3 separate regions of the Homo sapiens genome follow, and all the other regions are linked to region 2. Evidence: fine-mapped expression QTL. A gene starts in region 2. Each other region holds a variant in brackets. All regions are shown on one strand. Distances are between the middles of the regions.

Region 1 (7,496 bases), 81 kb before region 2:
GACTTCTCATTTGCTTTTGTCATGAAGTGAATGATTTCTTTTTGGGAGTTGAAGTCACCATTGCCACCATCTGTTAAGTTCTTGGTGATTTCTAGAGTATGCGGGACTTTATGCAAACCACTCCTCTCATCCCACAACTACACGAGGATTTTATCATCACCCTTATCCAACCCAGGAGCAAACTGAAGCGAAATTGCCATAAATCTCTGACTAGGAAGTAAGAGATGAGACTTAAGCACCATACTCCCCGGAAACTGCAGAAGTAAAGATATGAATGGAGAGAAAACTCCGTGAGGCACACACGGCTCAGCATCATGGGAGACACGTTGCCGCCTGAGCCACGGGCTAGGAGAGGCTGTCTCTCTAGGTCTGGAAGACCCATCCCAGAGACCCACAGCGGGACGCACATAACGTTTAGTGAGCAGCTGTTTCTGGTCATCCGGCGATGGTGCTGGAGCCGGGTGAGAAGTGTTTTCAAAAGGGAAAGGATTCATCAAGAATTCTGCAAATTACAAACTGATGAGGTTGACATAAATCTCCCCCCAATATTAGAGGATATATTCTTAAATAAATAATTTTAGATAATTAAGGGAAACAAAGCCCATCAGGAACCAAGTGGACCCGCTCACTCCCAGGGCCCTCTGGGTGCACAGCAGGACACAGCTGGGTTTGCAGCTGTTTGATCAACAGGGCCCCAGCCTGCGGGATGATCAACCAGCCATCACTTCTTCCACAACTGGAGCAGCACCTGGGCTGCAACACAGCACCCTGGGAGCCCCACTAACGAGCTAGAGGGCAGAGCCAGAAGATTCCAGAAATAGCTTGTATGTCTGCCCCAAAGGCATGCAGAAAAGGTCACTGGAGGAGACCTTGTCACCTGTTTTTAATACCTGAGAAGACACTGGGGAAGCCCTTCACCTGGGCTGGGGCAAGAGGCAGCAAGGGGACCTCAAGAGGGCTGGGCCAAGGGCCTGGCAGATGTGTCCTCACCCAGGGAAAGCCCAGTGGGTCGAGAGAGAGGGAGGGATGGGCATCAGGTACACGGACGTGGAGCAAATATACAGGCCTGGGTGGAGAAAGCCACCTCAAGCCTCTGTCTGGGCCCTGATTCCCATCCACCCGAGAGGCAGAGGAGGCTGCCGGAAGCCGGGTCCCAGGACTTCACCAGACAGTGGACCTCAGTACCCAGGCCCAGGTGACTGTCCCCACCTGAATGCGCCCTCCCCTGCAACCAGGCTGAACATAAAGGACATACAGGGAGCAGCCCCAAAGGGTAGAGGGAGGCCTGAACGGGGGTTCAGGAGGGTAGTCAACAGCCTGGGGTCTTTGGCCAGGGGAGCTCCAAGCTCCTTCCCCAGTGCTGTGGGACTCAGACCCCTGCTCTGAAGGGACCATCAGCTCTGGGCTTGGCCCTACAACCAACCAGCACGGGAGTAGGTCCCACAACCCAAGCACAGGCCCCGAGAGGACCAGCAGAAAGAAGCAACGTGCACGCCAACACGGCCCAGTCTCCCTGCTCCCTAGAGCTCCCCCTCTGGGACCCTCGGAGCCCTTTCCCTCCTGCTGTCCGGGCCATGGTGCATGCAGTGGCCTCCACGGGGCTCTCCCAGCTCCTCCCCACGGGCTGCCTCCATCAGGCTATCTGCACAGCTCACAGGCCCCAGGCTCACCTGAGCCCCCAAGGCCATCACAGTCTCAGAGGGTCACACCCCTGGGAACTCCCCATCCATCCTTGCAGGCCCTTCTCTCATGCCCCTACCAGATGCCCAGGGAGAAGGCCAACAGGAGGGTGCAGCCCAGGCTTCCAGGCCACCCTGACTTGCGCTGGAACCTCCTCACACACCAGCACTCCCCCAGACAGGGGTCAGGCAAAGCCAAGGCCCTGGGGACACAGGCAGATGACTCACCCCCTTTTCTTCTCCGAATGGAGGCTTGGAATCAAGAAACAGAGTAAAGGGAGTAAGAGGCAGGCTCGGCACCCGGGCCCCATTATCCACACTCATTTCCCCACCCCATCCCTCTCACCACCACCTCCCCCAAAAACCATGACCTCCCAAATCTGCCCCCAGCCTACACCTCTTTATCAGACCGTGAATAGCAAATCTGCCCAACTCTGGAGTCAGTTGGTACATGCCTTGAAAGCCAAGGAGGAAACAACCACAAGCAGGGACTTGTGTGTGTGTGCCACATGCATGCAGGTGCACACAGCGCATGTCCACTCACCCACGCACAGACATGTGTGCTGCATGCACGCAGGGGCACACAGCGCGTATCCGCTCACCCACGCACACACGTGTGCCACACGCATGCAGGCGCACACTGCATATCCGCTCACCCACGCACAGACGTGTGCCACACGCATGCAGGCGCACACAGCGCGTATCCGCTCACCCACGCACAGACGTGTGCTGCATGCACGCAGGTGCATACAGCGCGTATCCGCTCACCCACGCACACACGTGTGCCACACGCATGCAGGTGCACACAGCGCGTCTGCTCACCCACGCACAGACATGTGTGCCACACGCATGCAGGCGCACACAGTGCGTATCCGCTCACCCATGCACACACGTGTGCCACACGCATGCAGGTGCACACAGCACGTGTCCACTCACCCACGCACAGACATGTGTGCCGCATGCACGCAGGTGCAGACAGCGCGTGTCCGCTCACCAACGCACAGACACGCACACACACACAGATATGCACAACTCCATCATGCTTGGCTCAGTCAAACGTTTGTTCAGAAAAAAGGCAAAACCCCATAGAAAACAAGTTCAGGTGTCGCTGAAAATTAAGGTGGTCACCTCTGTGTTCTGTTCAAAGTCGGTCTTAAAAGGCAGGGCAAGTGTGTTTGGCACAGAAACCTTTTCCAGGACAAGGCCACTCACATAGATGCTGGGTGTGGCACCTACCCTGATGTTCTCATCACAAAAGAAAAAGGGGCCCAGAAATTACAGGGAAGTCCAGAGTTCTCCCGGGAACGTGAATACACAGGAAGGGCTTGGACCCGCCACAGGGCCTTCCCTGGCCTGGGTCTCCACTGACCTGTGGCCCCAGCACATTCCTGGTACAAACCGAGCAGACATGCATGTGGCGACCATGAGGAGCCCCCAGTGCTGAGGGGAGGAGGGGTGTTCTGCCCTCTTCTCTCTCTCACCACCTATCTCAGGAGGGTCCCCACCCAGCCCCTTCCTCTCACTCCCAGCTCTGCAACCCTCCATTTTCCAGGCACCAGCCTTTGCTCACCCCATTCCCCCACAGGATACCCCTTCCCTCCCCTTCCTCCAACAGGGCCATGCCTCTCCCACATCCTCCGAGCAGCAAACAGCCACCTGGACAGGAGCCTCCGACTTGCACCTGCTTTCTCTGACACCTCACTTTCTTTTCTTTTTAGGTGTCCAGGCACCTTCTCGATAGACTATGGATCCTAAAGGGCTCTAATAGCTCTTGACAGTGTGAGGCAGTTCTGATGTGTTCATGCCAGCAGTGACCAACAGGCCTCATTTCTATCTTCTGAAAGCAAAAACACTGGGTTGTGGGATGGTCCCTTAGGTACCTGGGGAAACCCTGATGCTGGCATGGCGTCCTCAAATCAGGCATTTCCAGAGGGGACTTCCAGAAGCCCTGCTGGCTTCCCAGGACAGCTGTCTTCTGGGGACAGGGTGGCTTCCTGAGCTCCAGAAGTGTGGGTAGAGGCTCTGCGCTAAGCTGTCCCTTCATCCTCCCCCAGACTCTGCTCAGAAAAAAGCCTGGAAAATTATGGTGGCCTGAAGCTGTGAGCAACTCCTCTGGAAGACCGGGCTCTGCAAAGTGACTCCAGCAACCTGTCCTGAGGCTTGTTGCAGAAGAGGGAACACTCAGCCCAGAGGGGAGGGAAAGGAGCGTCTTCATTCACCAGTTTCTTCAGGCAGAAAAGCCCAGAGAGCAAAGCGCAGTCCTTCCGTTTCCATAGGGCAGAGTCCCTGGGTCCCAGGATTACGGATCTCAGGCTGCCCAAAAGCCCCGTGGTGCTGAATAGAAGAGTCCCTTCTGAACATGCAGCTGACTGTGGCTATGTGACAGCCTCTGGCAGGAGAATCCTGGGACCCAGCTGCCTACTGGTGCTGGCTTATTGATCAGTTTGGATCTTCAATTGACAGGTCAGCTCCCCGTGACTGACCTTGGACCCTCATGACCCGAGTGCCAGAGGTCTAGGATTAGCCTCTCTGCCTCACTCCTGAATGAGCAGGATTAGCGGGGTATAGAATTCTAGGTGGAAAAGAATTTTGACTCCACACTTTGAAGCTCTTCTTCCATCATCTACTGTCATCTGCCACTGCTGATGAGAAGTCTGTTGTCAGTTGGACCACTGCTCCCGTCTAAGACATCCAGCAGCCCATCTCTCTCTCTCTCTCATCATTTTTTGCTTTGTTTTGTTTTGAGACAGGGTCTCGCTCTGTTGCCCAGGCTGGAGTGCACTGGCATGATCTTGGCTCACTGCAACCTCCACGTCCCAGGCTTAAGCAATCCTCCCACCTCAGCCTCCTGAGTAGCTGGGACCACAGGCACACACCACCATGCCAGGATAATTTTTGTATTTTTAGTAGAGATAGGGTTTCGCCATGTTCCCCAGGCTGGTCTCAAACTCCTAGACTCAAGTGATCCACCTGTCTTGGCCTCCCAGAGTGCTGAGAGTACAGGCATGAGCCACCGCACCCAGCCTCTCTCATTGTTTTAAAGATTTCTGCTTGCTCACAGCATTCTACAGTTTTACTATGAAAGATGTGGATACAGATTTGTTTTTATTTCCTTGCTGAGACTTATATTTCTTTAAACTGAAGACTCATGTCTTTGTTCAACTTTCGGAAATTCTTAAGCCATCTCATCTCCAAATATTGCCTCCAGGCAACATTTTATTTTTGCTTCCACGCCTTGCATTAGGTAGATGCTGGGATTTTCCCAATAGTCCCATTGAA[T/C]TATCTATGTGATTTTTGTGTGTGTGTGTCCTAACTGCTCTTTGATATTTTCTATCTCCTTATATTTCTGTGCTATATTCTGGGTAACCTCAGATTTATCTTCTAACTTGCTGTTTCTTTCTTCACCTGGGTCTAGTGTACTGTTTATCCCAGGCATGGCTTTCTTTTTTATCTCAGTGACTACACTTTTTGTTTCAATAACAGTTCTTTAAGAATCCTTCTGGCTGGGCGCAGTGGCTCACGCCTGTAATCCCAGCACTTTGGGAGGCCGAGGCAGGTGAATCACAAGGTCAGCAGTTCGAGACCAGCCTGGCCAACATGGTGAAACCCCATCTCTACTAAAAATACAAAAAATTAGCTGGGTGTGGTGTTGTGCGCCTGTAATCCCAGCTACTCAGGAGGCTGAGCCAAGAGAATCACTTGAACCCGGGAGGCGGAGGATGCAGTGAGCCGAGATCGCGCCACTGCACTCCAGCTGGTAATAGAACGAGACTCAGTCTAAAAAAAAAAAAAAAAAAAAAAGAATCATTCTAAAATGTGCTTATTCTTTTTTTGCTTGTTTGTTCTGTCCTATTCTCTCATTAGTTCTGTTAGTTCTTTTAATCTTTGTGACAATTTACTTTATTTTAATGTTTTTCATATTCTTCTCTGATTTCCAGTTCTTTCGAAGCTAATTCCAGTGGTTGGGCTTGGTTTTTAACCTTCCCGCTTCTCACAGGTCCAGCCACGTCTCCCAGCCTTGTGGGGGCCTCAGGACCCCAACCCCTTGCCCCTGCGTACTAGATAACGAGCTATGGAAGCCTCTGGCTTTGGTTTCTCTCCTTTTCATTCTGAATTATCTACATGGGGTTTTTTGTTTTTTTCTTTGGGTTTTATTTTATTTGGAATAGCTATGGTGAAAATTCTGACCACGTCAGCCCAATGGACGTTGGTAGCTGTTCTCCACCCTGAACTAAACTGCAGTTAAGACCACCTGCTTGGCATGGGGCAGCTCAGCCTGTGGCAAGGACAGGGTCAGGGCTTGGTTCATGAGTGAGGTCAGGGATAATTCTGGGGACCAGGAAAAGGGTTCCTTCTATGGCTGGGGTAGAACCAAGACTGAAGCCAGGGATAGGGCTCAGCCTAGAACCAGAATGGGGTCCCTTCCTGTGGCCAGGACTTCAGGGTTCAGTTTAGGACCAAAGTTGGGGTTCCTTCTATGACCAGAGGCAGAGTTAAGTCTGGGAACAGAACTGGGCTCAGATCACAGAAAGAAAGAGCCTCACGCCTGTAATCCCAGCACTTTGGGAGGCCGAGGCAGGCAGATTACCTGAGGTCAGGAGTTCGAGACCAGCCCGGCCAACATGGTGACACCCCGCCTCTACTAAAAATACAAAAAAAAAAAAAAAAAAATTAGCCGTGCATGGTGGCGGGTGCCTGTAATCCCAGCTACTTGGGAGGCTGAGGCAGGAGAATCACTTGAACCCAAGAAGTGGAGGTTGCAGTGAGCCGAGAACGTGTCATTGCACTCCAGCCTGGGCAACAAGAGTGAAACTGTCTCAAAAAAAAAAAAAAAGAAAAAAAAAAAGAAAGAAAGAGCCTGTCAACTGTCACGTACAGTGGGACATGCCCATGACGAGGCTGTTGATGGCCACATGTATAGCACATACCCACAGTGAGGACAACGGTCACACGTAATGGGACAGTCCCATGAAGAGGCTACTGACTGTCACGTCAGGACATGATCAAGTATATCTGGACGTGCACATGACAAGGTTGTTAATGGACACATATATAAGACCTGCCCATGAAGAGGCTGTTGATGGTCAACCAGGGCTTGTGCCCAGAACATGCCCCATCAAACCCCAACACACTCCTGCTCCCCTCCTGCCGCGCTCGAGGCCCTGCCCCATCATCCCACCGACAGTACTCCTGTGGCCTGTGGGGTCAGCAGGGCCACCTGTCAATGAGTGCACAGTCACCAAGAGGGTAAAATAAACACAGAGCTGACACAGCCAGTGCCTGGCAGAGCCAGCAGCAGACCCTGGTCACCTCACTACCGCTCTCTCCTCACTTGGATGAAATGCAGGAGTAAAGTCAAAGTGGAGACGTGGAAAACCAGAGGCAGCACACGCACACACATGCACACACATGCAAACATACTGGTGGGCCAGGCCCTGCTCCCCGTCATCTGTCCTGGACACCCCACTGTCCATCCCCAGCCTCTCACATCTCACCCCTTCCACATGCCACCCTCTCCTCACCCCACAAGCACCAAATTTCCCCATCGCGCCAGCACCCACCCATTCACCTCTGACCTGCTCTTGTACCCACCTGTCCTTCCTACCCTCTGGCTGGACCGCCTGCCCTCCCGTACCACCTGTGTCTCCCGGCCCTGTCTGCCCATCATGGACCGTCCACCTGCGTCCACCTCCACCGCCACCCCCGCCACTCACCAAGTTCCTCGAGCTCAGCTGTCATGGACTTGGAGCGCAGGGTCAGTGTGGTGCTGGGGGCCCTCTTGGGGGGCGGTGGGGCTGCAAAGAAGAGGGAGGCCTT
Region 2 (6,820 bases):
CAAGATGCAGCAGTCTTCATTGTGAATCCTGCAGGGATCCAAAGCAATGGTTTGCGCGCACAAAGGATTTTAACTTGTTACAGGTCAGATTTTTGCTCTTTAATTTTGTGAAGAGGATTTCTAAGGCTAGCCACAACATTATTATGTGTCTTTCCTTTAATCTCCCCACAAATACAAATAAGGCAATTGTTTAGAATGAGAGACCTCTAAAATCTTTTTTTTTTTTTAATTTAGGGATCTTTCTAATGTAAAGGATTCATCTTTTGGCTATTGACAATCAGAATTTCCAATGATGTATTTATTCCAATAGCAACTCAATCCAAGAAGCCCCTTCATGGAAAGCCCAAAAGATTATTTTCCAGGTTTAGAGAGGGCATAGAAGAGGAGGTTCCAATGATGCCCCCAAAATTCACTCCCAGGAATAGGCAAAGACAGCAAAAGACTCTTGTTCCCAGAGACAGTTAAGGAACGTGTTTGTACATACAGTGCCTCCAGTAACACACAATCTGTCAGGGGCTGCCAGTCACAGACCCATTAACCTGTAACACAGGGTAGGCCTGTTGGGATTGGGCTTTCTGAGGACTGACCAGGCAACAAACATTGGGATGACAAAAGCCCCTTATGGATGGGCCTGAGGAGAGCAAAAACCACCTGGCGACCATCAAACATCAAACAGGCCCTCCGAGGCAAAACTCCTTATCTGGGGAAAATCAAAAGTAACTAAACCTCCCTATTATCTAAAGCAGGCATCTGGTTCCAGATTTCTTCCCCCAAAAAACGTGTAAGTAACTATAATTTCTATGTGTCTCCAGAATACCATGACGAAACTCACTGTACAACCGTCGCTGACATTAAGGCACCAAAATTACTATAAATGTAATCATTTATCATGACTTACGTGGCTAATATGGTCCAAATTACTGTTAAGCCTCCACTTTAAGGCCTATAAATGCCCTTAAGGAGAAATCCACCCGGCGTACTCAGTCCTCTTGCTGAGGCACCTCATTGCACTCTTCTGCAGCATTCTAATAAACTTTCTTTCTTTTCTTTTTTTTTCTTTTTTTTTTTTTTGAGATGGAGTTTCACTCTTGTTGCCCAGGCTGGAGTGCAATGGTATGATCTCAGCTCACCACAACCTCCATCTCCCAGGTTCAAGCGATTCTCCTGCCTCAGCCTCCCAAGTAGCTGGGAATACAGGCTCCCGACACCATGCCCAGCTAATTTTTTGTATTTTTAGTAGAGATGGGGTTTCATCATGTTGGCCAGGCTGGTCTTGAACTCCTGCCCTCAGGTGATCCACCTGCCTCAGCATCCCAAAGTGCTGGGATTACAGGCGTGAGCCACCGTGCCCGGCAAACTTTCTTTTTTCTTTTTTTTTTTGAGACAGTCTTGCTCTGTCTCAGCTCACTGCAACCTCCGCCTCCCAGGTTCAAGCAATTCTCCTGCCTCAGCCTTCCAAGTAGCTGGGATTACAGCCACGCACCACCACACCTGGCTAAGTTTTATACTTTCAGTAGAGACAGGGTTTCTCCATGTTGGCCAGGCTGGTCTCAAACTCCTGACCTCAGGTGATCCACCCACCTTGGACTTCCAAAGTGCTGAGAGTACAAGCATGAGCCACTATGCCCGGCCAAACTTTCCTTTTTCAAACCTATTGTCGGTAAACTCTTTTTACCAACCCGCAAGTTGACCACCACTCCCAGTGCCGGGGCTCTGACAGCTCGCCTGGCAGGGACTTCTTAAGACAAACTAAAAGCTTGACACATTCAGAACAAAAACGGTGCTGCTTAAAATATTAAATGTCTTGGGTTCCCAACCATTTTCAGACTGACCACAAAATGTGACCTGCGAGTCACTACCTCGGATTGGCAGAGGCCAAGAGAGTGCTCCTGAGGTAGGAGGTGGGACTTAGTTGACCCAGTTGAGGATTGGCTAAAACAGGGTTGGGGCAATAGCAGCTTTCAGTCAGATATGCCCGCCACTGTGCCATGTCAGTTTACCATTGCCATGGCAACACCCAGGAGTTGCCACCCCTTTCCATGGCAATGACCCAATGATGACTACTCCTTCCCTAGAAACTTCTGCATAAACCATCCTTTAATCTACATGCAATCAAAAGTGCGTATAAATGTGACTGCAAAACTGCCCTGAGCTGCTACTCTCAGCCTACGGGGTGGCCCTGCTCTGCAGGAGCAGTCACAGAGCTCTAACGCCACCTGTTCAATAAAGCTGTTTTCTTCTACCTCTGGCTTGTCTTTGAATTCTTTCCTGGGCAAAGCCAAAACCCTCACTGGCTAAGCTCCACTCTGGGGTCTGCCTGGCCTGCATCATTCCCACTCGCTCACAACTCAAGCTTTCAAGGACATCAAAAGAGAGGAGAATCTCATCCAGTTTTCAGTTCAGGGACCCACAGCAAAGTCTGTCTAACTAGACGCATCCGATCAGAGCTGCAAAACTGACTAGCCTGCAGGACGGCCCCAAGACGGGGTTTACAGGGGTTTTAGGCCTGTGTTCTACCCTCTTTATGACAGAAAAACACAGAAAGACAAGAATGAAAGACGACTATTTCTGGGGAAAAAAAGCAATCAAACAATATGAATACAAAACTAATCACATAAATACATTTCTCTCATTAAAACTTTGAAGAGGAAAACAAGGTAAACAGACATTTTTACCGTCGGCTTGACAAGATTCCAGAGAGGCCGGGAGCCTGGCTGCTAAGACCTTCTTACCCTTCTTTCTGCCAGCTTGTCGGCTCCTGGGTTCCCCTGACGGAGGCTCCCAGGAGAGTGACTTTAGTTATCCTACCGACTGCACCAAAACTGTAGGAGCCTAGAGAAAAACTTTTCTGCATTCTGAGTTCACAGAAAATCAACTGACAAAAGCCAGGTTAGTAAGAAAAAAGGCATACAGATTTATTCATGCACACAGGGAGAACCAGAGTGATGACCCCAACCTCCCAATGGGGTTCGGAAGCTTATATACCATCTTGAGGTTACAGAAAGAACATGGGCTCAAAGTATGGCCACAGTTTATGGTGGAAAATCAGGTGACCAGTGGCAAGACCGGTTACAGGAGGGAGAGCAGAGGAGGCCTGGCTAGCAAAGGTGGCCTTGTTCTACAGATGAAACCTCACAGGTAGCAGCCCTGAGAGAGAACAGATGGTGAATGTTCCCTTCAGGCCTTTAAAGGCGTCAGACTGTTACTCTTCCCAGATCAGGCAAGGAGGGCCTCAGAGGAGGCCTGGCCGCATCAGTGTAGATTCTCTCCACAGATGCAAATCTCCCCCACAAAAGACAGCTTTTCAGCTATTCTTCTATTTCCAGTCCTTCTGAGTAACTGTCTTGAACCGTGTCAAGGAAATATATTTGGAGGTGACATATTGTGTTTTCCTTCAAGATCAAAAAGGTTAAGTCCAAGGCTGCCCAACGAGGGAGCGAGGACCCAATCACGTTGTCCTCAGATGAGTTTTTCCCCAGCAGCGTAACCCTGCAACAGGCCAGACTGGACCCCAGACACACATTCCACACCACACCACGCCTCCACCACCACACGCACACAACAGACACACCCTAAACACCAGACACACACACACACCTCAACCACCGCAAACACACATACGCCACACCTCTAACACCACACACACCCAACACCACACACATACGTGCCTCAAACACTACACACACCTCAACCACCATACACCTCAACCACACACACCCCTCAAACACCAAACACACCCCTCAACCACACACACACACCCCTCAAACACCACACACCCACCTCAAACACCACACACACATATCCCTCAAACACTACAAAAACACACACACACACCTCAAACACCACACATGCACACACACCTGAAACACCACACACCTGCCTCAAACACTCCACACACACCACACACAGACACGTACACAGCCCCCCGCACCCAGCCACAGCTTACACGCACACAGACACGCGTACGCAGGAGAAAGGGTGTCAAAGCTTTTGCTAGTCGTGAAGGAAGAGCCCGCAGTCCATGGGGCTGCACGGTTTTCCCTGCCATTTGCTCATTCACCGGGTGCCCATAACGCTCCGCGCTCAGGTCTCTTACAGGAGGGCCCGAGTCTCCCAGTACCGGAGGTCTGGGGGCGCACGAGCCGCTCCTCCTCTGGAGAAGCTCCGGACCGAGAGGACACCGGACACTGCGCAGCGCCGAGCCCCGCGCGCAGCCCGGGACGCCTCAGCCAGGGCCGACCGCGCAGAGGAAGCTCCCAGAGCCCGTTTCAAGACCGCAGCCAACAGCCTCAGGCGCACACGGCGGCCTCGGAGCGAGCACGCGCAGCAACGCCCCTCGCCCCGGCCCGCCCCCGGCCCCGCCCCCGGCCCCGCCCCCGGCCCCGCCCCGCAAGGGTCACAGGTCACGGGGCGGGGCCGAGGCGGAAGCGCCCGCAGCCCGGTACCGGCTCCTCCTGGGCTCCCTCTAGCGCCTTCCCCCCGGCCCGACTCCGCTGGTCAGCGCCAAGTGACTTACGCCCCCGACCCTGAGCCCGGACCGCTAGGCGAGGAGGATCAGATCTCCGCTCGAGAATCTGAAGGTGCCCTGGTCCTGGAGGAGTTCCGTCCCAGCCCGCGGTCTCCCGGTACTGTCGGGCCCCGGCCCTCTGGAGCTTCAGGAGGCGGCCGTCAGGGTCGGGGAGTATTTGGGTCCGGGGTCTCAGGGAAGGGCGGCGCCTGGGTCTGCGGTATCGGAAAGAGCCTGCTGGAGCCAAGTAGCCCTCCCTCTCTTGGGACAGACCCCTCGGTCCCATGTCCATGGGGGCACCGCGGTCCCTCCTCCTGGCCCTGGCTGCTGGCCTGGCCGTTGCCCGTCCGCCCAACATCGTGCTGATCTTTGCCGACGACCTCGGCTATGGGGACCTGGGCTGCTATGGGCACCCCAGCTCTACCACTCCCAACCTGGACCAGCTGGCGGCGGGAGGGCTGCGGTTCACAGACTTCTACGTGCCTGTGTCTCTGTGCACACCCTCTAGGTAAAGAGGGGGCCGCGCCTCTTCCCCGCCCCGACCCTCCATCCCTTTCCTCCCAATGGATTGCAGGGGGGCGGGAAAAACGTCTGTCTCTCTCTCTAGGGAAGGCCACATTTCTGTCTGTCTCAGGGACTCTGTGACTTGTCCCGCAGGGCCGCCCTCCTGACCGGCCGGCTCCCGGTTCGGATGGGCATGTACCCTGGCGTCCTGGTGCCCAGCTCCCGGGGGGGCCTGCCCCTGGAGGAGGTGACCGTGGCCGAAGTCCTGGCTGCCCGAGGCTACCTCACAGGAATGGCCGGCAAGTGGCACCTTGGGGTGGGGCCTGAGGGGGCCTTCCTGCCCCCCCATCAGGGCTTCCATCGATTTCTAGGCATCCCGTACTCCCACGACCAGGTAGGAACCACCCGGGCCCTCAGCCACCCTCCCACCTCCCAAAGTCCCCCAGCCCTTGATGCTCCCGCAGCCCCACCTGCCAGCCCAGCCCTCACGGCAGCTGCCCGCCTCAGGGCCCCTGCCAGAACCTGACCTGCTTCCCGCCGGCCACTCCTTGCGACGGTGGCTGTGACCAGGGCCTGGTCCCCATCCCACTGTTGGCCAACCTGTCCGTGGAGGCGCAGCCCCCCTGGCTGCCCGGACTAGAGGCCCGCTACATGGCTTTCGCCCATGACCTCATGGCCGACGCCCAGCGCCAGGATCGCCCCTTCTTCCTGTACTATGCCTCTCACGTAAGTGATCTTGGCCCAACCCCCTGGCTGCCCGTGACCCCTACCCAGTGCTAACTCCAGTCTTTGCCCCCAGCACACCCACTACCCTCAGTTCAGTGGGCAGAGCTTTGCAGAGCGTTCAGGCCGCGGGCCATTTGGGGACTCCCTGATGGAGCTGGATGCAGCTGTGGGGACCCTGATGACAGCCATAGGGGACCTGGGGCTGCTTGAAGAGACGCTGGTCATCTTCACTGCAGACAATGGGTATGCCAGCAGGGCAGCTGGGTGCTCCGGCCCTGTCACGGGCCAGGGCCCTGGAGGCCTTGCAGTTCAGCTGCTTGCCAAGAACATAGTGGGTGAGGGGGTGCCAGGAGATGCTGGCCACGTTGCAGGGGCCCAAGGTGTAGTCAGGAGACACAGTGCACAGAGAGCTGGTCTTGGTAGGCCTGGGAGGTGCCGGGCTCATGCTGGGCACCTCCGGGCAAGCTTTGTGACTTAGAGGTGTGGGGCCACTGGTCACCCTCGGTGGCTCAGAGGCTGTGGCTCCATGGCTCATGAGCGCCTCCTGTGTCCCAGACCTGAGACCATGCGTATGTCCCGAGGCGGCTGCTCCGGTCTCTTGCGGTGTGGAAAGGGAACGACCTACGAGGGCGGTGTCCGAGAGCCTGCCTTGGCCTTCTGGCCAGGTCATATCGCTCCCGGTCAGTCCGCAGGCCCTCTCCTTGGAACCCTGGCCCCACCACCCCAACCTTGATGGCGAACTGAGTGACTGACCAGCCTCCTGCCCCCAGGCGTGACCCACGAGCTGGCCAGCTCCCTGGACCTGCTGCCTACCCTGGCAGCCCTGGCTGGGGCCCCACTGCCCAATGTCACCTTGGATGGCTTTGACCTCAGCCCCCTGCTGCTGGGCACAGGCAAGGTAGGGCCGGTGACCCCTGATCCCAGATCCTTGGCCCCTGTCCTGGCCTTCCCCTGGGGTGAGTGTGGGCAGTGCCTGAGAGTCTGTGCCTCAGTGCCTCCTGCACTGAGTGGCATCCAAGTGGCGCCACCTCTCAGGTTCCTGGGTGGGCAAGAAGCGGTGCACGTCCAGGGCCTCCCACCAGG
Region 3 (10,849 bases), 26 kb after region 2:
GTCTGGTCTGCATCGCTGCCCGCTGTCCCACCTCTCCACCCCACTGAGCAGCGTTTCCGCATGGATCCCATCAGACCATCTCTGCACTCGGCGGGGACAACACAAAAGGGCTCCGCACCTTCCAGCAGGCAGCACCCTCACTCTCGACCACAGGGAGAGTCCACAAGGCCCCCAAGATGCACTGACGTCTGTCCCACGCCTCAGTCCTGGCAGCACCGTGCCCTGCTGTGTCTTGCCTGTCTGTGAGCCTGCTTCCTCCAACTCCCCGCAAGTCCTTTCCAGCCTCTGGCTGGCTCTGCCTCTCTGGTTCCTCCCAGATCTCCTTCCTCTAGGGTGCTGGGACACAGAGGGCAGGGGCCTGTGCCTGGAGGGAAGCTGGCAGCCCCCCTTGGCCTGCTGCTCCTATGCCAGCACCTCCTCCTCCCCTCCTCCCCTCACCCTGCCTGGCCATTCCCCTCTCGTCTCAGTGATCTACCTGCTCTGACCTGGTATCTTCCCTCCAGGTCTCCCTCCTAAACTCCAGACCCATGGGACCAACGGCCACTTCAGTCTCACCGTTTGTGATTGATCCCGCATCCCCTCTCGGTGTGTGGGCTGCAGTACAACCATCCCCCAGGGAGACGTCACCCTGGTCTCTTCCAGGTCACCCTCTACAGCCGGTCAACCTAGGTCCTGCCTGTACTGCCTCTTCAGTGCCTCTTGCATCTGCACACTTGGTCTCAGGACATAGCACCTGTATAACCTCAGCAGCCCCCAGGTCCCCTGTGTCACCTCCTTCCATTAGGAGCCTTCTATGGCCTCATTACCAGCAAGATTAAGTACAGCTCCTTGGCATAATCAAAAGGGTCCAGGTCTTCCCCGGCATTTCTAGCTGCTCCCCTTACACGCGGGCCCCAGAGCCTATATAGCCCCCGACCAGTGCATCCCACACCCTTGGCTCAGCTAGACCCCACCAGGAAGATCCACTTCCCCACCGCTGTCACCTGCTGTGTTTCCAGGCTGGCCATCCTGAGCCCCAGGCCCACTCAGGCGTCCTCTGCACCCACACAGGCTTCTCACATCCTTCGCCCGTGTGCCTCTCTCCACCCAGACTGGATGCAAGCCTGTCTGACCCACGCCTCCTGAGTCCAGCTCAGAGCAGGCGCCACTGCAGGCTCAGCTCACAGAGCTAAGTGGGTGCAGGTGGAGCTCTCAGGGCTGGGCACGGGCAGCCCTCAGGGTCTGTGGGGACTCAGGGGGCGGTTGGACTCTCAGGGTTTGTGGGGGCGGTTGGGGGACTCGGGGACGGTCAGACTCTCACCAGCTGTTGCGGGGATGGCAGCCGCAGAAGGAGATGTTCTTCATCTGGAAGAAATGGCTGCAGCGCTGGAACTAGAGCAGAGGTGGGCAGAAGTCCCTGTGTCAAAGGAGGCCTGGCGCCACCCCTGCCTCCCACCTACTGGACACCCCTGCCAGCCTGGCCCCGTCGGACTCCGTGGCCTAACCCTATCCCCCAGTCCCCGGTCCCCAGTCCCCCACACTCCCACCTCGGGCCCTCCTCCGCTCAGACTCAGCTTGACCCCCCGAAGAGAGATCTCGAGGTCACAGGAGGCAGGAGGGCGCAGGTGGACGGTCAGTTTCCGGGCAGTGGCAATCTACAGAAGAAGTTGGGGGAGAAGAGGGTCTTGAGGAGCCCACAAGGGCCTTTCTTTCCCCTTGGTGGGACTACGCCTCTGCTCCTTTTAGCTTATGTTTGAGGACACACATGCTGAGGACCCTGAGATGCAATTCTGGAAGACATAAGGGGTGTGGCCTTGGCCACTCCTCAGGCTCAGGAGGAGCAATCGCCTCTCTGCAGTCAGCTTGCTTCATCTTCCTTCTGCTCCTCCAGGCAGGCTGCTGCGCTTGGCTCAGGAGCCAGGAACAGAGACCTCACCCGCCCTGGGCTGCTCTGCCCTGCTCCCTACTGCCCCCCAGCCTCAGCCTCAGTACTGGTGCCTGGGCAGGTGCTCACTAAACGTCCACTGAGTGAGTGGATGAGTAGAGGGCTCCCAGGGAAGGGGCTGTGAGGGCTGGTCTTGATTCCAGATGGGAAGAGGAAGGGCTGATGGCAGTCGGGGCCACCTGGAAGATCTGTGGCCCAGAGACCCAGAGGTGATGAGGGACAGCTGCTGTGCTCTGCCCTAGACTCACCTGCTCAGGCCTCTGAACCAGGGCCTGGGGTACCCACCCCGAGCTCCCCCTGCAGCATCCCCCAGACCCTCCCTGGAGGAAATCAGACCTCAGACCTTGGAGCCTCAAGCCCTGTGCCAGCCTGCAGTGCTGGTGTGGCCGCCAAGCGGACCCTCAGCCTGCACTTGCCCGGCCTCCACACTGACCTTCTGCATGGCTGCACACAGGATGCCGTTGCCCTGGTGGCAGGGCACCTCCACGGAGCCCAGGAACTGCACGTCAAAGCGCTCCACCCAGCAGGGGCTCCGCTTACTCCCTGGGGAGCGGGGCACAGAGGGCCCAGGTCAGGCAGGGGCACAGGGGAGGATCTGGGGTGAAAAGCCTCCCCTCGGGGTTGGGACCTCACCCAGCAGGTCCTTGGCAGGGCCGGGCACCGCATGGGCGTAGAAGGCAGGAAACACACCGCGCTCCCCCGTGCGCATGTTGAAGCCACGGAACCAGAAGTCGTCCTCCTCGGCCTCCACCAACACAGGGTCATCCACATCCAGCTCCAGCTCGTCTGGATGCCGCGGGATGAACCTGCCGTTGGGGGAGAGGTCACTGGGGAGGGGGGCGGGATTGACGGTCGTGTCCACTGGCGTTCCGTGATGGCAGGGACTGAGGCTGGGGCCACCGCCAGCAAGGAGGGAGGCCGTACCTGAACACAGCCCGGTGAGTCTGCTCTCGCTCCTCGCCGTTGACCAGACAGGAGAAAAGGCCAAAGGACTCGGTGCCTGGGAGACCCGGCAGGACAGAGGCGGGGGAGACAGGGAGACAGAGTCAGAGTAGTGCTTAGAGGCCTGGCCTTGGGCAGAGGCCAAGTCCCCTCCACAGTCCGGTGTAGGTGTCCTACGAGCGGGAAGGAGCTGAGGCAGAGCAGGCCACCTCATGCCATGTCCTGGGTGGGAGAGGGCACCCAGCCCTGACCACAGCCAGACCCTCAGGTGGCCCTGGGCACTGTGGGGGACCCTGGGACTGGGGCCAGGGAGTCTGCACCTTCCTCTGGGCCACCCCCCTTTTCCCCACCTCTCACTCACTGGAGGACCGAGATGTGCTGTTGACGAAGACATTGAGGAACTTCTTGGAGAAAGTGAGGTCAGGGCTGTCCGGCGAGGTGTCCCCCGAGACCTGACCGCCGCCTAGCAGCGCCGCGCCCGCCTCCTCCTCGCTGGCCTCCCCGCCGCTGTCCTCTTCGCTGTCGTGGCCCAGCCCAGCACAGCGCCGCAGGCTCACCAGCTCCAGCTGCGTGTGCTCATCCACCACCAGCGTGTACTTGACCGCGTCGTACACCAGCGACGCGTCCCGCGGCGCCGAGGGGCCCGTGCCCCTGCCCCCGGGGGACCCCGCACTGTCCTCGGCATCCTCCTCTTCCTCGTCGTCCTCTTCGTCCTCCTCCTCGGAGCAGGCGGCGGAGCAGGCTCGTCCCGGGCGGGCGGCGCGGCCGGGCGCGGCCCACAGCGGCGTGATGGTGTCACGCGTGGGGTTGCTGAGGAATAGGCAGGGCCCGGGCTGCGCGGGGCCGGGTCGAGGCGCGGCGGGCGCGGGCGGCGGCGGCGCGCACAGCGTCTCCATGTCCACCAGCTCCACGCCGCCGGGCCCCGCGGCCGCCTCGGGGTCCTGGGAGTCCTGGGCGGCCCCGCCGGCCGGCGACACGGGCTCCCCGGGCGGGCGCGGCGCAGGAGACAGGCACTGGCCGGGGCAGCGGATGGGCGAGGAGCCCTCGGAGATCATGCGGCTCACCAGGTTGCTGAGCAGCCAGGGCGAGTCCGCGTCCTCGCTGAGGTCCGGCTCCGACTCCGACCCCGACTCGTACTCGCTGTTGGTGTCGTCGGGGCCCACGGGCAGGAAGGCGGGGCGGCGCGGGGGTTCGCGCGGGGGCTCCGGCTCCGAGGCGGGCGACGAGGCCTCCTCGATGGAGTTGGTGAGGTGCGAGGAGCGGCCGCTGCTGCTGCTTCCGCCATCGCTGCTCAGCTCCAGCTCCGTCTCCGAGATGGACGAGATCATGCGCCCCAGGCGCGCGCCGCCCGCGTCCTCCGAGTCGGAGCCGGGCGAGGACAGCTCCTGGCTGCTGCGACGTCCCCCGCGGCCGCCGCTCGAGCGGCTTCTCAGGTCAGCCTCGATGCCGGGATCTGAGGAGGGCGAAGTCCCCCCTGGCGCAGGGGGTTCCGCAGGCCGGTTCCCTTCGCAGTCGCAACCCGGGCGCACTGGCGACTGCGCCCCGCCGGGCCCGGTGTCCGTGGCAGGGAGGGGGCCCGGGAGCTCTGCTGGGCAGGGAGGTGGGGTCACCCTCTCTGCACCACCCAGGCCTCTTCCAGCAGCCAGTCCATCCTCCCTGCCCTCCTCCCCCGCTTCCCCGCGCCCCGCGGGCCCACCACCCCTCACCTCTGAGGGCCTCCGGGGCGGGTGAGCATAGCGCTGTCTCCTGCCAGGAGGCCGGACGCACCAGGTCAAAGCCTCCGTTGTTGTTTAGGGAGTCCTGGGGTGGAGATACATGACGGCGGTCCTGAGGAGGGCCAGCTCCCAGGGGGTGAGCAGGGCTGGCTGCAGCCCAGGTGCTATGAACCCAGGCTCAGCTCCAGGGAGCTGTGGGTCCGGGCACTCACCTGGGCCCCCAGTGTGGTCAGACGGAGGGTGGTGGGCCGGTGCTTGTGGGGCTCCTCCACGGAAGGGGAGGGGATAAGGGGCCCGGGGGCAGGTGCCTCTGAGCCAGGGTCTCCTCCCTCCTGGCCTTCCCCATCTCCCTCCTCCTCCTCCTCCTCCTCTTCCTCGTCCTCATCGTCCTCCTCTTCATTGTCATCGATCATCTCAAACTCCTGGAAGTCATCCTGGAAGGAGCAGATGGGGTGCGGCTGCTCCGAGCGCCCCAGGGAGAGGCTGTCCTGCAGGACGGAGGGAGATAGCAGGGCTGGGCCAGAGGGCAGCAGTAGCCCAGGGGCCCAGGTGCTAGGAGAAGGGAAATCGGGGAGCATCAGTCAAAGGAGAGCCCCTTCCAGCTCACTCTGCCCCTCTGTCTACAGGGCGATGTTTTCAAAATCTGCCTAACACACATTGGGATCACTCCAGTTCTTGGGAAGGGCCTAAACTCTACAGCTGAATGACAGGGATTCTCAGAGCAGCCCCAGCCCCACTTTCAGACTCATCTAACTGCAGAACCCCATCACATTTGACACCAGCACTGTGTTCCCTTC[G/A]CAGCGTTTTAACACAACTTACAGTTACTGGACATGGTTTTTGGTCTGTTGCAAGCCCCACCAGGGCAGGGTCATGTCCATGTTATGCACTGTTGCACCCGCCCCCAAGAACAAGACCTGGGGCTCAGCGGATGTTCAGTAAACATCAAACAGATGCAGAAATGGAGAGACAGCCTCTGCACTCTGAGGATTCACCAACTTTGCGCCAACCCCAGGGCCATTGGCACAGTTATTCCCCATGCTGGCACTTCCTCTCCTCCATTCCCTCCTACCTACCCCATCTGCCTGGCTCTGCTAACCTCAGGGCATGGTTGACATTTCCTCTGGAAATTCTCCCTGATTCCTTCAGTGTGGATTGGGTTCCCTTCCCCCTCGTGGAACTTATGTCCCTGTTGGAATGCAGCCCTTGACACGTGGGCAGCCATTGTCCCTTACAAGTCTTTCTCCCCTACTAAGTTGCAGCTCCAGAGAGCAGCTGTCCTGTTCCACTCCCAGCACCCAGAAGCCCCCAGTACTTGCCACATGGCAGTTGCTCAGAAATGTTCTTCAATAAATGAAAGCAGAAATGTGGAGAGACAGGGAGGAGGAGAAGCAAGAGATGGACGAGAAAAGATTTCAGCAGGGGGAGACATGAAACAGACAGATGGGAGCTGCAGACGAGGGCACAGGGCTGCAGAGGGGACAAGGTTGTGATGGCAGCTGCCAGGGATTAGATCTTTCTGGGAGTGATCTGAGGACAGAGGGCACCCAAAGCAAAGGAGCACCTCCCTGCCCCGGGCTGGCCACCGATGGGGTCGGGGAGAATGCTGGGGAAGGCCCTGCGTGGAGGCCTGCAATGTGTTGGAATAAGAGAGAGTTGATACCAAGGAAACCTCAAGGGTTAAGTGGGGAGGAGCCATCAGAGGAGTCCCCGGTTCAAGGCTGAGCTCACACCCACCCTAAAACCCCAAGTGAACGCTAAGAAGAACCTAATGAGGCCCTCCCTTGAGCTGGATCTGTGTCCCCAACTCTTCTCCCACCTTCTCACAGTGGTCTGAGTCGTAGCTGAGGCCCAGGCCACAGTCATCAGTGATCTCAGACAGATCTTCGTCGTCAAATTCTTCCAGGCTTATGTCCTGGGGAGGCCTGGAAAGGAGACCAGGGTCAGAGAGCCACCAACCCTGGACTCCCTGCCTGGCAACTGGCCCTGAGGAGGGGCAGAGGGAGGCGTCAGCTCCTACACCCAGTGGTTTCCACAGCCCCCAGCTCTCGGAACACATCCTGCCATCATCTTGACCCCCAAGCTCTGCTCGCCTGTGGATCCCCTCCCCCATCTGAGCCAGGCCTGCCCGGAGGAGCCAACCCTGCCCCCACCCCTCCCACCCCGCCTCCCTGGAGAGCCAGCAGCCTCTCCTCCCTCCACTCGCAGCTCCAGGCCCCTGGGGTCAGGGTCTTGCAGAGCAGGGGAGGGGGAGCTGCAACGCGGCAGCGGCAGATGGGGAGGGGTCGCTCCTGCTCTGGGAAGAGAGTCTGGCCTGTTTGTCTCCCCCTCTCCGGCGGAGTGAGGCCTAAACCCAGAGGCCCAGCGTCCTCCCAACCCCAGTCCCTTCCCGCAGGGCTCCGGGCTTGATTTCCACTCTCTCCCGGCCGGGCCCTATCGGCCAGGTCTGGCGTCCACTGAAAGAGGCCAAGGCCACCGGGACACGCCGCGCCGGGAGGGTGTGCCCGCATCCCGCCCGCATCCTCCCCCGCAGAGGGTCGGCCCAGGGCCTCCACCCTTGACAGGTCAGCCGTCCAGGCCGGGCGCGGCTCAGAATCCCGGCGGGGCCCGGGGGTCACTGAGGCTGGGGACGCGCGGTGAAGATGGAGGGAGTGGGAGCGGGGTGGGGGTGGGGCGCCCGAGCCGAGGCTCAGGGACCGCAGGGGGCCGGGGCCGGGTCCGCGCCGGCGGCGGGGCTGGGGCGGCGGGGACGGGGGTCCGGGCCGGGTCGGGGTCGGGGGGGTGCGCAGGGAGCGGAGGGTCCGCCCGGCCCGGGCGCCGAGGGGGGTACCTGCAGCCCGGCGGCGACAGCGAGTGGAAGGTGGAGAGAGAAAACATCTCCGCGCGATCCGCCATCTTCTCCGGGAGAGGCCCGCGACTGCGGCGGGGGGTGCGGGAGCCTCGCCGCGCCCCGCGCCGGCGCTCGGCCCGCCCCGCTCACCTCGTGACACGCCCTGCGGCGTCCGCCCCGCGCACCTCGCCCGGACTCCGCGGCGGCGCGGGGAGGGCGGCGGGGGAGGCGGGGGAGGGACGCGGCCGGGGACGCTGGTTGGAGGAGAGGCGGCGGCTTCACTGCCGGGCGCTGGTTGGGGAAGGGCCGGGCGTGCGATGAGGATTTTTCCCGGGGAGGGGCGGGAGGGAAGGGGCGGGCGGGTGGGCGTCGGGCCCCGCCCTGGAGGACCCGCGCGGGGCGGGAGGCCGAGGAGGCAGCGCCGGGGTCCGCGGGCCTCGGGTTCGCCGTGGGCTGTTTCCTCTGGGCGAGAGGCCGGGGCGGCCCCGGGAGCTGCGCCGCCGCGCCCAGGATCCCCCCAGGAACCCTAACCCGGGTGCGGCCCGGAGCGGGGTGGCGGGCGAGGCGGGAGGCGCGGGAGGAGCTGTCCGCCGTCGGGTGCTGATCGGAGCTGTCCCCACGGGGTGCTGACCGGGGCTGCACGGGGACGTCTGCACGAGGGTCGCCGAGCAGGGCTGGATTCAGAATCGAGCACAAGGTACTCAGAGGATGCTGGCTGGGGCTAAAAGTGGACTTTGAGCACTCAGTAGAGACTGCACAGCCGGACGGACGTACCGACGGGCACTGGGAGAAGTTAGCACCCACGGAGGCGACATGCGTCCCACTGGAAACACTTTTTCTTGGGCACCGTGTTGCTGGGCCCTGTGTAGGGAACTGACCCGCTCTGGCTTGGGATGGAGCCCTGTGGGGAGGGCCATGGTTGAAGCTGAGCTCGAGACGGTGGCTGTGGGAGGAGGCGGGAGATCAGGGTTGAGGGCGCAGAACTAGGGAGAGACTGCAGGACACTTTTTTTCTTTCTAAAATAGAGACCGGTGGCTGGGCGCGGTGGCTCACGCCTGCAATCCCACCACTTTGAGAGGCCAAGGCGGGTGGATCACGACGTCAAGAGATCGAGACCAGAGACCATCCTGGCCAACATGGTGAAACCCCGTCTTTACTAAAAATACAAAAAAATTAGCCGGGCGTGGTGGCGGGCGCCTGTAGTCCCGGCGACTTGGGAGGCTGAGCCAGGAGAATCATTTGAACCCGGGAAGCGGAGGTTGCAGTGAGACGAGATTGCGCCACTGCACTCCAGCCTGGCAAGAGCAAGACTCCGTCTCAAAAAAAAAAAAAGAGAGAGAGAGAGACCGGCTCTCTCTGTATTGCCCAGGTTGGTCTCAAACTCCTGGGCTCAGCTATCCTCTGGCCTCAGCCTCCCAAAGTGCTGGGATTACAGGTGTGAACCACAGCACCTGGCTAAATATTGGCTAAAGAAGGAGGCTGGCATTTCAACAAAAGCGCAATCCCTTTTCCCCCTTGATGAAAGTTATGTGCCCTAAGATTTCTTTATGTCTTAGTTCTGCGGAAAATTCTTTTTTTTTTTTTTTTTTTTTTTTTTTTTTTTTTTTTTGAGACAGAACTTGCTCTGTTGCCCAGGCTGGAGTGTAGTGGCACGATCTCAGCTCACTGTAACCTCCACCTCCCGGGTTCAACCGATTCTCGTGCCTCAGCCTCCCGAGTAGCTGGGATTACAGGCAATCACCACCATGTCCGGCTAATTTTTGTGTTTTTAGTAGAGATGGGTTTTTGCCATGTTGGCCAGGCTGGTCCCAAACTCCTGACCTCAGGTGATCTGCCCTCCTTGGCCTCCCAAAGTGCTGGGATTACAGGCGTGAGCCACCGCCCCTGGCCTGGAAAATTATTCCTTAGGAAAGGACAAGGCACTTGAGTGACAAACACCAGAAACGACATGGCAGAAGGAGCTCATGCAAGTCGGGAAGGGGGGTATCACCATTCCAGCTCAGAGAGAGGCCTGTGGCCAGGGCCTGATTGAACCTGCACTCTTTGGTGTCCCATCACAATTTATATTTTATGCCAATTACAGTATTTTTCTAAGAATGGCATTTACTTGGCTGGGCACAGTGACTTACACCTGTAATCCCAGTACTTTGGGAGGCCAAGGTGGGTGCGTCACTTGAGCTCAAGAGTTTGAAACCAGCCTGGAAACATGTCTCTACCAAAAATAAAAAAAATTGGCCGAGCCCAGGAGGCAAAGGTTGCAGTGAGCTGAGATCACACCACTGCATCCAACCTGGGGGGCAGAGTGAGATCCCATCTCAAAAAAAAAAAAAAAGCCATTTACTAGTTTATGCTTGCCTTCTTGACTTGGGTTGGCTGGAGAGAAGAGAGGCTGTCATCTCTCTGTGAAGCCCTAGGCTCCAAGCATGGTGCCTGGCAAACAGTAGGTGCTTAGCAGACATGTGAATGAATGAATGAGAGAGCTTATGGTCTCTAACCCAGTCTGGGGCATCAGGTCTTTGCCATAACAGTCTTTTCCCTTTTAGAAGCACTAAGAACATTCCCCATTTCTGAGGGAGTCTGGGCCTATTAACCACTCCCTGCCTTTCCCAAAAAATCCAGATCCCTTCCCAGATTTCACAGAGAGTTTGACCTCAACTTTCCAGATTGGCTTTTGATCCTGAGTCTTTTCACCAAACTGGTTCATCTGGACATCCACATAAATGACCCATCCAATACCCTGGTCAGTCAGTTCCTTGATTTCTGATCTGTCAACAGTCTTTAATACTCAAGTGTAGTGACCTCTCCCACAAAGTGCCTCCAGGATCTACCTTCATCTGGAATTGCAGCAAGCTTAAAATCTTTTTTTTTTTTTTTTTTTTTGAGACAGGGTCTCACTCTGTCACCCAGGCTGGAGTGCAGTGGTGTGTCCCTAGCTCACTGTAGCCTCAAACTCCTGGGCTCAAGGAATCCCCCTGCCTCAGCCTTCTGAGTAGCTAGGACCACAGGTGCACACTACCATACCTGGCATTTTGTTTGTTTTTGTAAAAACAGGGTCTCACTATGTTACCCAGGTTGGTCTTAAACTCCTGGGCCCAAGCCCAGGTGATGGCCTCCCAGAGTGCTGAGATGACAGGCATGAGCCACAGCATCCAATCTGAAGTCTTATAGTCTCAAATTTCATCTTAGATCCTAATCCCCAAAACCTTCCTCAAGCCTCTCCCCTTCCTTCCCTCCCTCTTAAAAGATGGTCACTCCCAGGTCCCATGAGCGTAAAGACCATGAGATGGGGGATACCGCCCGCAATTTTATCTGTGGACCTCCCATCTTGCCCCCAGAGCACAGATGGAAGATCGTCGGCCTTAAAGTCTGAAATACGGGAGCCACTCTTCATTTTGCACCAACTTGTTGAACGTGGGCAAATTACTCAGTTCCTCGAGATCT

Which allele goes with the higher level. Alleles are on the strand shown, and positions count from the first base shown. SD is a standard deviation of normalised expression in the study named. Not every link is listed here.
For the expression in neural progenitor cells of the gene that starts at base 4,419 in region 2, allele C in region 1 goes with a higher level than allele T (moderate effect, 0.52 SD a copy in Aygun 2021).

Evidence for each region. PIP is the estimated chance that this variant, and not a neighbour inherited with it, causes the effect.
Region 1: its variant is fine-mapped to the expression of ARSA in neural progenitor cells (Aygun 2021, PIP 0.95).
Region 3: its variant is fine-mapped to the expression of ARSA in whole blood (INTERVAL, PIP 0.97).

What each region holds. Positions count from the first base shown.
Region 1 is chr22:50,706,050-50,713,545 of GRCh38, reverse strand. It overlaps SHANK3 (SH3 and multiple ankyrin repeat domains 3), which reads right to left. Exons shown (of 25, transcript NM_001372044.2): 20 at 7,394-7,474; 21 at 1,908-1,931. Among named protein-coding and RNA genes, the nearest start is that of ACR, 28 kb to the left of the region's middle. The variant T/C (reference allele first, on the strand shown) is at 4,959.
Region 2 is chr22:50,625,751-50,632,570 of GRCh38, reverse strand. It overlaps ARSA (arylsulfatase A), which reads left to right and starts at 4,419. Exons shown (of 8, transcript NM_000487.6): 1 at 4,419-5,015; 2 at 5,165-5,405; 3 at 5,519-5,737; 4 at 5,811-5,980; 5 at 6,293-6,417; 6 at 6,508-6,635. The coding sequence starts at 4,792. LOC124905149 (a long non-coding RNA gene) reads right to left here and starts at 1,077. Exons shown (of 2, transcript XR_007068161.1): 1 at 1-1,077. RefSeq lists a silencer at 4,335-4,524 and an enhancer at 5,459-6,241.
Region 3 is chr22:50,597,443-50,608,291 of GRCh38, reverse strand. It overlaps MAPK8IP2 (mitogen-activated protein kinase 8 interacting protein 2), which reads right to left and starts at 7,499. Exons shown (of 12, transcript NM_012324.6): 1 at 7,409-7,499; 2 at 6,398-6,503; 3 at 4,794-5,069; 4 at 4,573-4,666; 5 at 3,228-4,451; 6 at 2,849-2,924; 7 at 2,558-2,730; 8 at 2,358-2,467; 9 at 1,527-1,634; 10 at 1,301-1,371. The coding sequence starts at 7,473. RefSeq lists an enhancer at 6,620-7,120 and a silencer at 7,910-8,089. The variant G/A (reference allele first, on the strand shown) is at 5,379.